Regions from separate parts of the Homo sapiens genome. Here region 1 is reported to be linked to region 2. Evidence: microRNA targets listed by miRTarBase, many of them from high-throughput screens and not tested one by one. Region 2 holds a microRNA gene; the other region holds the end of a gene's coding sequence.

Evidence for each region. The annotated mature microRNA hsa-miR-3919 reads GCAGAGAACAAAGGACUCAGU and lies in region 2 at 2,504-2,524, shown strand. An mRNA with a match to its seed (bases 2 to 7 or 8) in the 3' UTR can be bound and repressed. Matches are read on the target gene's strand: a 7mer-m8 pairs with bases 2 to 8, a 7mer-A1 pairs with bases 2 to 7 and ends in A, and an 8mer does both.
Region 1: the mRNA of FOXP4 is a reported target of hsa-miR-3919. Seed matches in the 3' UTR shown: 7mer-m8 at 1,571-1,577 and 7mer-m8 at 353-359.

The regions. Positions count from the first base shown.
Region 1 is chr6:41,598,438-41,602,437 of GRCh38, reverse strand. FOXP4 (forkhead box P4) reads right to left here. Exons shown (of 17, transcript NM_001012426.2): 17 at 54-3,649. The coding sequence ends at 3,502. It overlaps MIR4641 (microRNA 4641), which reads right to left and starts at 3,715; the gene lies at 3,650-3,715. RefSeq lists enhancers at 3,030-3,613, 3,614-4,000.
Region 2 is chr3:159,280,197-159,284,725 of GRCh38, forward strand. It overlaps MIR3919 (microRNA 3919), which reads left to right and starts at 2,450; the gene lies at 2,450-2,538. The region is part of intron 4 of IQCJ-SCHIP1 (IQCJ-SCHIP1 readthrough); the gene reads left to right. All of the region lies in intron 1 of SCHIP1 (schwannomin interacting protein 1), which reads left to right.

The DNA of each region.
Region 1 (4,000 bases), not on the chromosome of region 2:
TAGGTCCCAGCTGGGAGGGGAAGAAGGGGAAAGGGGAAGCGGCCGCAGCAAAATCATGGGTAATTGTTTTTATTGCATTGTAGAGAATGCCATTGTCCACAGATTACATGCAGCTAGGTTTACCGTACAAGGCCCTGGCAGCCTCCACGGAGGGCTGGGAGGGGCAGATTACAAAACACATCAGTGCTACTTTTTTAAACAGTATCTGGTGGGGAGACTCTGAGACCAAGCTGAGCTCCCCAGCCCCTCTCGAGGTACCATGGGGGACAGGGAATTCACCCCAGGCCCTACACAAGCGTCCAGAGGATTAGGGCTGTGGTGGAGCAGGCCTGCAGAGTGGATGAAGGTGAGACAGAGAAAGCGGGGCGAGTGAGCGACAGACAGAAATAGATGGACGAAAAGGACAAAAGACATGCCTGAGAGTAGAGAGAGGTCAGCAAAGACTCACCCTCCAGGTCCTTCTCCCAGCATTTGGCTGGAGAGTTCCAGCAGTTTGGTGATTTGTGGGAAGGGTGATTGACTCCAGTTCAGCTTTCTCAACACCCTCCCCTCCCCTGCTCCCCAAATACACTCTTCCCTGGGCCTTGTCCCTAGGGACAGGCCTGGGACTCCTTTCTGCCCTCAAGGAGGGAGTGTCCAGAAGGTGGCGTAAGACCAGTGAGAGCCGGGTGCAGTGGCTCACGCCTGTAATCCCAGCACTTTGGGAGGCTGAGGCTGGCGGATCACCTGAGGTCGGGAGTTCGAGATCAGCCTGACCAACATAGAGAAACCCCGTCTCTACTAAAAATACAAAAAAATTTAGCCCGGCGTGGTGGTGCACGCCTGTAATCCCAGCTACTTGGGAGGCTGAGGCAGGAGAATCACTTGAACCTGGGAGGCAAAGGTTGCAGTGAGCCGAGATAGCATCACTGCACTCCAGTCTGGGCAATAAGAGCGAAACTCCATCTTAAAAAAAATAAAAAATAAAGACCAATGAGACGGCTGAGGCCCTGGGGATGTGCACAGGGGTCTGAGGCGGCGGGAGGGGCTCTGTGTTGAGGAGGGGCAGCAGGTGGGGAACCAGGACTTAACACGGGATAAGAGGTGCAGGCTGGTGTGCTGGGGCTGGGGGAGGTGTCAGGGGCCATCTTTGGCTTAGCAGCTTGGCCCTTGGCCTCTTTCCTTGCAGCCTATCCAGGGTCCCCTTTGTATAGGTTGAATGATCCCGTTTCCGCCGTGAGCCCACTATGATGACCATGGTCACCACACAGTGTGCCACGTGGGTGTGCACGCACACTAATGGTCCTACTGCTTCAGGATGCCACCACCACACCTGGGCACTACACACACACACGCCTATCCAGGCAGCCCCCTTGAAGACGTGGACAATGGGCCTGGAAGGACACCTGGGAATGGGTGTGGATGTCTCCAGAGCTGGTGGCACAGGTAAAAGAACCCTGCGGCGGTGGTCCTCTCCATCCCTGCAGCAAATCAGCTGCCTTGCTCCAACACTCTGGCAAGAACTTGGATTTCAAACTAGTGAAAGAACTAGGGCAAAGGATTGGGACTCTGGAAGAAAACAGGAAAATGACAGAGAACCCTGTTTAAGCGTGGAAGGGACAGGAGGCACAGGGGAACCGGAGGTGGGTGGGCCCTGTCCACAGTGAGGGCACATGCCCAGCGCCCCTGCAGGGCTGCTCATTCCATCCACTCACAGAAACCACCACCACAGCGACCCTCACGTTGCTGCTGCTCTGCCCAGGCTCCCCGAGCAGAGCGATCTTTCAGCTTTAATGCTCCTCCCCTCCCGCACCTCGGTGACACACACAGGGCCCGGTGAATAGAGGACGTTTAATATTTCTGTGCTGGTCAAACGGAACACAGGTGGGGAATACATGGGGAGGGGGCGGAGGGCCCCCTGCCTCTCAGGAGGGGTGGCTTGTGAGGGGTGTATGTGGGGGGTTCTTGGGAAATATCCAAGGAGTCTTCTCAGTAAAGGGGCCAGGCCAGGGGTGTTATGAGCATCCGATACGCCCAGTCCTTGGCCTTGAGTTGGGGGTCCCCCATAGGGGGTCTGTGGAGAGTCTGACTTTTTTCCAGCTCTTTTGCTAGAATCCACACTCCCAGCACGACGGGTGACTTGGTCCTAGAGAGGGGTCTGGAGAGCCCCCAGGAAGCAGCCCAGGGTCAGGGAGAAGGGCTCCCGTGCCCACTCCTGAGGGGGTGAGAGCCCGCTTTCTCCCCTCCTTTCTCCTTCCCCCAGGCTGGGCAGGAGCGGAAGGGAGGGGGGCAGGGCCCTGCCTCCACTGAGCCCCAGGGTCCTCAGGGTGGATGGAGGAGGGGTGGAGAGAGAAGGTCTTGGCCACCAACAGACACTGTAAACTTTGGTTTAAAACAATAACTTAAGTGGAGGGAGGGCTTCCAGCCTGGGGCCGGGGTGGGAGACTGGGAGGGCAGGTGCTGGGGAGGCGACAAAGGAAAAAGCCAACAAAAAGTTTTGGTTTTTGCTTCCGGCATAAGAAAGGTCTTTGGTCATCCGTTTAACTGGTGGGGCGGCGGGGGGAGAGGCGGGCAAGGAAGGGGAGCTGAGGGTGACTGCAGAGGAAGGGGAGCTGAGGGAGGGTGAGAGGACTGCAGAGAGGCCTGCAGGCTGGATGTGGGTGTGGAGCCGGGGTCCAGCCTGGCCTTCCCCTGGGCTCCCGGCCCAGGCCCCGCCTCTGGCCTCAGGGAGAGCTTGGCTCCACCTGCAGAAGCGCACCTGGCACAGACCTCTGTGGGTGAGGCGGTACCAGGCCTCTTCCCATGGGGGCGGCTGGAGGAGCCCCCAGCAAACGGGGGTGGGGGTGGAGGCCTGGCTCAGCCTGGTTCTGTCTCAGGTTGGGGGCGGGTCTGGAGCCAGGTGGGCCTGCTCACACGGACCCCCACAGGGCACACAGACAGTCCCACCCCAGCAGCAGAGGGGGCTGTTTCTTCTGGGGATGGAGGCACAGTTCCTCCACCCAGGCCAGGGCAGGGTGGGAGCTGGGGTGGAGAGTTCTTTCTTCACAGTACGGAAAAGAAGGCGGAAGGGAGCACGAGTTAGGAAAGTGGGGGCCTCTGGCCAGAAAACACGGCCAGAGCCAGGTGCCAGGGGGCCCTGGGTTTGAGGGGTGGCTAAGCCCCGCCTGCGGGTCTCCATGATGCTGAGGGGCCCTGTGGGGAGAGCTGGTGGGGGAGGAGGGCCCTGCTGCTGCTGGTGGTTGGGGGGAGGCAGTTTCAGATGTGGGGAGGGTCTGAGGAGGGGTCTGAACCCTCCGTGTCCTCTACTGGTCCAAGACCAGGGGTTGTGTCCCTGGGGGTGGGGACCGTCCCTGCCCCTACGTGTTTTTGTCAGGTCACACTGGGAGCTGCTGGCCCGGGCCTCCCCGGTCTGAGTCCTGGACTTGCCTTGAGGCTCGGGAGGGGCTGTGGAGTTGGGGGAGATGGGGCCTGGATTCTGGAAGGGAGGGGTCTCACCCCAGCCCTGCCGGTCACTACAGGCCCTTAGGACAGTTCTTCTCCCGGCAGCTCCTCCTCCAGGTCCCTGTCTTCCGGAGGCCCCGAGGCGCTGGGGTTAGGGGCGCCCAGGGGAGGCCCGGGCTGCCTGTCTTCCTCTGCCTCTGCTGGCTCCTCCTTCACCTGCACCTGGTGGCTGAGGCAAAAGTATGGCATGGGCACCAGGCGGCTGTCCTCTGATGCCCTCTGCCCCCTGCCCCCCAAACTCACCCAGAACTCTGGGGCACAGTGGGGTGCCCACAGCCCCCTCCCCAGGATCCCATCAGACCTGAGGGCTGATCTCCCCTAGGGCTCTCTTCAAAGAAAAGCTGGTCCTGGGGCAGAGACTGCTCTGGGTTGGGGAGGAGAGAAGAGGGGAGCAGAGGGGAGATGAGCGAACGGAGGAAGGAGAAGAAAGATAGAAGAGAGGCCAGGCGAGGTGGCTCACACATGTAATCCCAGCATTTTGGGAGGGCGAGGCCAGTGGATCACCTGAAATCAGGAGGTC
Region 2 (4,529 bases):
TGACCATGGTGATTCTTGTTGACTCCAGTTGGCCACATGCCTAGACTATGCTTTATTGCTATGCCTAGACTATGCCTTGTTGCCCCTCCTGGAATGTGTGTTTCCACCACTTTCACTGGTTTATTATACTAGCCTGCCTAGTAATCTCTATGAATCTTTCTCTGGCCCTTTTTGATGCTAGCTGAGCTTTTCAGGTCCTTTCCTAGAACACTTGGCCTTGTTTGGAGAATTTAATCTAGACCTGGGACCTATGTGATAAGTTGCAGGGCCATCGCTCAGACATTTGACTCATCTCCTGGAGGGTTTTCTCATCTGTAAAATGAATAAGTCGGCTCAATTCCCGTTAGTCTCAAAGGGACACGAAAGCTTAACAAGATCGTGCTTCGAGATATTTGGAACACAGGGTGGCATTATCACATTATTATTTTCACAAGCTGTTAACCTGAAGGGGGAAAATAAAGAGTGGAAATTTAATGCCAGAGAGGTTTTGGCACTTTGTCAATTCAACATTAGCTTTGAGGGCTTTTGGAATTTTGCCTGAAATTTTCAACACCAAGTGGCTAAAAGCTGTGTTTTTCTGGGCTTGTGATATTCCTGTCCCCAGGGATGGCATTAAGCACTTGCGAAGGATGAACTGTGCCAGGCCTATCTTCCAGTGTCCCACAAACAGACAAAAAAGCAATGCACACTCTAAATTGCTGTGCAAACCCACATTTTCTACTTGGAACAGCACCTCTGACTTGTGCCAGTAGAAAAGGGATGATGGGAAGGGAGTAATCCACGATTGCATGTGTTAAATACATTCCCTATGTGACATGTGGGGCAATCGTGGCTGTGGAGGCTTCTGTTTGGGTGCTTGGATGGACCCTACTGAAGATCACAGGACCTTTATAGGTCTTTCACAATCTCCCACATCAGTCTTTTTTGAAAGAGAGCTATTGCTTATGCAAAAGTCGCCCTTGCCAACTAAACCAAAGACTGGGCTAATTAGAAGCTAGGAAAAAGAAATACATCCTCTTGGAACTTCATTTTGGGATTTTGGAAGGAAGAGAAAGGCAGGAAGACCTGCTAGAATCTGGGGAAACATTTATTCATTCCCTGTAATTAATGTTTAAGCTATGTGATCATAATTACACCGAAATATTCTAAGTGGTTTACTTTATTTGGACAAGAATTATTTTCAAATACATAGGATTCCACATATGCGCCTAAAACACATATGCACATATATTTAAAAAATAATATGCTTTATATATTAAAAGATGATAAATTTTCAGTGTCAAGAGCTAAAAAGTATAGTTTTGAATGAATGTGCTTACACTTCTTAATGTATGTACATTTTGTATTTTCATGAAGACCTACAAATCTGTGCTGTGTCAGTGGAAGAAGGGAGCTATTTACATTTTAGAGCAAAGTACAGTGATCACTAATTTATCAAAAACTGACAGGAAATGAGGCTTCTGTATAAATGAAATCTATCAATAATGGACGGTTACTTTTTTTTCAGTCAACACATTTTGAATGGCATTGTTTCTAAACTACATTGTAATATTCTCTGTCTCATTTTATAGCAATGCCTATTCATTTATCGTTGTAATGTGTATATTCATTTTAGAAAATATGAAATGTTAAAAAATATATCTCACCATTAATCCAACAAAGACCCCTATTGTTAACATTTCAGTGAATTTCCTTGGAGATTCCGAAATGTGTATACACTAGGTATTAGTATGAATATATATAAATATAGCTCTTAAACATATTTTCAACATTTTTCACTGTGCTTTTAAAAACTTAATATTTTAATTTCTGTGTCATTAAAATTTCTTAAAGTTTTATGGTACAGTGTGAATGAGTAATATGAAATCACATAGACATATAATTTATTGAACTATGCCACTATAGTTATCAATGTCAACATTGAGTGTTCATATATTTTCATATTTTTGTTTCCTTACAAGAGATTACTGTAAGTATAATAAAAATTTATATAACATTTTTAAGGATATTGATATATATTGTTACATCCCTAGAACTGTTGTGCTAGTTCTGTTAATTTAATAGATTGAAAGTGGCCTGTGTTTAAAACCTGAATTTCTTTTTTAGTTGTTGAGGCTTAACATTTTCACATTTTGTGGCCATGTTGACTTATTCTGTGAATTGTCTATTGTTTCACTGAGATTTTATGTGTTAAATATTACGTATATATTATTAAGCTTTTGCATTCGTATATGTGAGATATATTTTCCTAGATTGCATATTTCAATCTTTAGAATTTTAAATTTTTTTTTGGAAATAAAACCTACTTAGTATCCCATTCACCTATATATTTTTGTGTTTTTTGAAAACTGGTTTCAACTTTATCATTTGTCTTAAGTTCATTGAAATTTTGGTGTATGGCATAATGAGAAATAATAGTCTTATTTTATTCCAAGTAGTTAACCCTTTACCTGAGCACCATTTACTGAGTCCTTTGTTCTCTACTAGTTTGTAGTAGTTCGTAGCAGAGAACAAAGGACTCAGTAAATGGTGCTCAGGAATCTTTACCATATGTTAAAAATAAATCCATTAGAATCTGTTTCTGAACTACCTTCATGAATAGACATGGTTTCACATGTCTATTCTAGTACCTATATTTTACTGTCTTAAATATTACATTTATATGATGAATTTTAATATCTAGCAGGGAATTCTCCACTTCATATATTTTCATGTTCTTGGATGGTCAGACTCATTCCAGATAAACTCTACAATTGTATAGTTAAGAAATTATTTAGAGACTTTAATAGCAATTGCATCAAATCTGTAAACTAATATAAGAACTGATACCTTTGCAAATTTGTTCTTACCATCTAGGAACGCTGTGTAGATAAATAAATATTGATAAGGACCTAAATATGCATAAGAACACGAATAGATATAGATATCAGGAAAGATTTGAAATTTCATATGTTTTATATTTTTTATTTTTTTTGAGACGGAGTCTCACTCTGTCGCTCAGGCTGGAATGCAGTGGTATGATCTCAGCTCACTGCAACCTCCGCCTCCTGGGTTCAAGTGATTCTCCTGCCTCAGCTTCCCGAGTAGCTGGGATTACAGGCCCATGCCACCATGCCCGGCTAATTTTTGTATTCTCAGTAGAGACGAGGTTTCACCATGTTGGCCAGGCTGGTCTCGAACTCCTGACCTCAGGTGATCCGCCGCCCGCCTTGGCCTCCCAAACTGCTGGGATTACAGGCGTGAACCATCATGCCCGGCATATTTTTTACTTTACTTACTATGATTGTTCCTATGTACATGGATTATGGATTATTTCCTTTTTTTTTTTTTGAGACGGAGTTTCGCTCTTGTTGCTCAGGCTGGAGTGCAATGGCGCGCGATCTTGGCGTGAGCCACCGCGCCTGGCTATTTCCTTCCTTTTGTTCCACCTCTAATTGGTTATTACTATAATATAGGAAGCGATGGCTTTTTGTTGTATTGATTTGTATCTTTTCAATTTATTAAAATCTCTTAATAGTACTTCAGAATTTTTTTAGTGGATTCTTTCGAGGTTGTTAACCATGTAATTTTCTCAACTGCAAATAATACTAAATTGCCTCTTCCTTTCCAAAAGTCTTATTGTATTGATTAGAAAATTCAACCTAAGCAAAATAGGTTGTCTTATTATCCATAGTTGATGCGATGAGTTATGGTCTGTTCTTGCATTGTGGTATTGCTGTTTGGTTTTAACGGGTAGTTCTTTATATGTTGCTTTTTATTTCTATTTTATGGTATGTTGTTTAAGTTTTTACATCTCTGCTTAAAAACGAAATTCACCTGTAGTTTGTATTTCTTTCAAGTTTGAATCAGGGCTGTGCAAGCTTCGTAAAATGAAAAGCTTCCTAGATTTTCCTTTGGTCTCTAATTTCATATAGCATGGTAATTACATGTTCCTTGAAAGTTTGAAAAAAATTCTTGATAAAACCGTACAGCCACAATGTCTTTTCTTATAAATACTTTAAAATAACATTTTCATTTCTTCCATGGTTATTAGATATTCAGGTTTTCTACAATATCATAAGTAAATTCTGCTACTTACTTTCCAAGATATATAAGTGAATATCTTGAGATTAACTATCATATTATTTTGTTTAAAATTTCTCTCTGCATACTCCTTTATTACTTTTAATATTTATAATTTTGTTAATTGAAATTTTATAAGAATCAGCTATTGTGTTAATCAATTCTGTATTTTCTAATTAATACACTTTGATATTTTAATGTAATATTTAGTTTGCCTGTTAACTTTAGGTGTTTTGTTTTGTTTTTTTGAGATGGAGTCTCACTCTGTTACTCAGAATGGAGTGCAGTGGTGTAATCTCAGCTCAGGGCAACCTCTGCTTCCCGGGTTAAAACGATTCTCCTGCCTCAGCCTTCTGAGTAGCTGGGATTACAGGTGTACGCCACCACACTCGGCTAATTTTTGTATTTTTTTTTCTTTAGTAGAGATTGGGTTTCATCATGTTGGCCAGGCTAGTCTCGAACTTGTG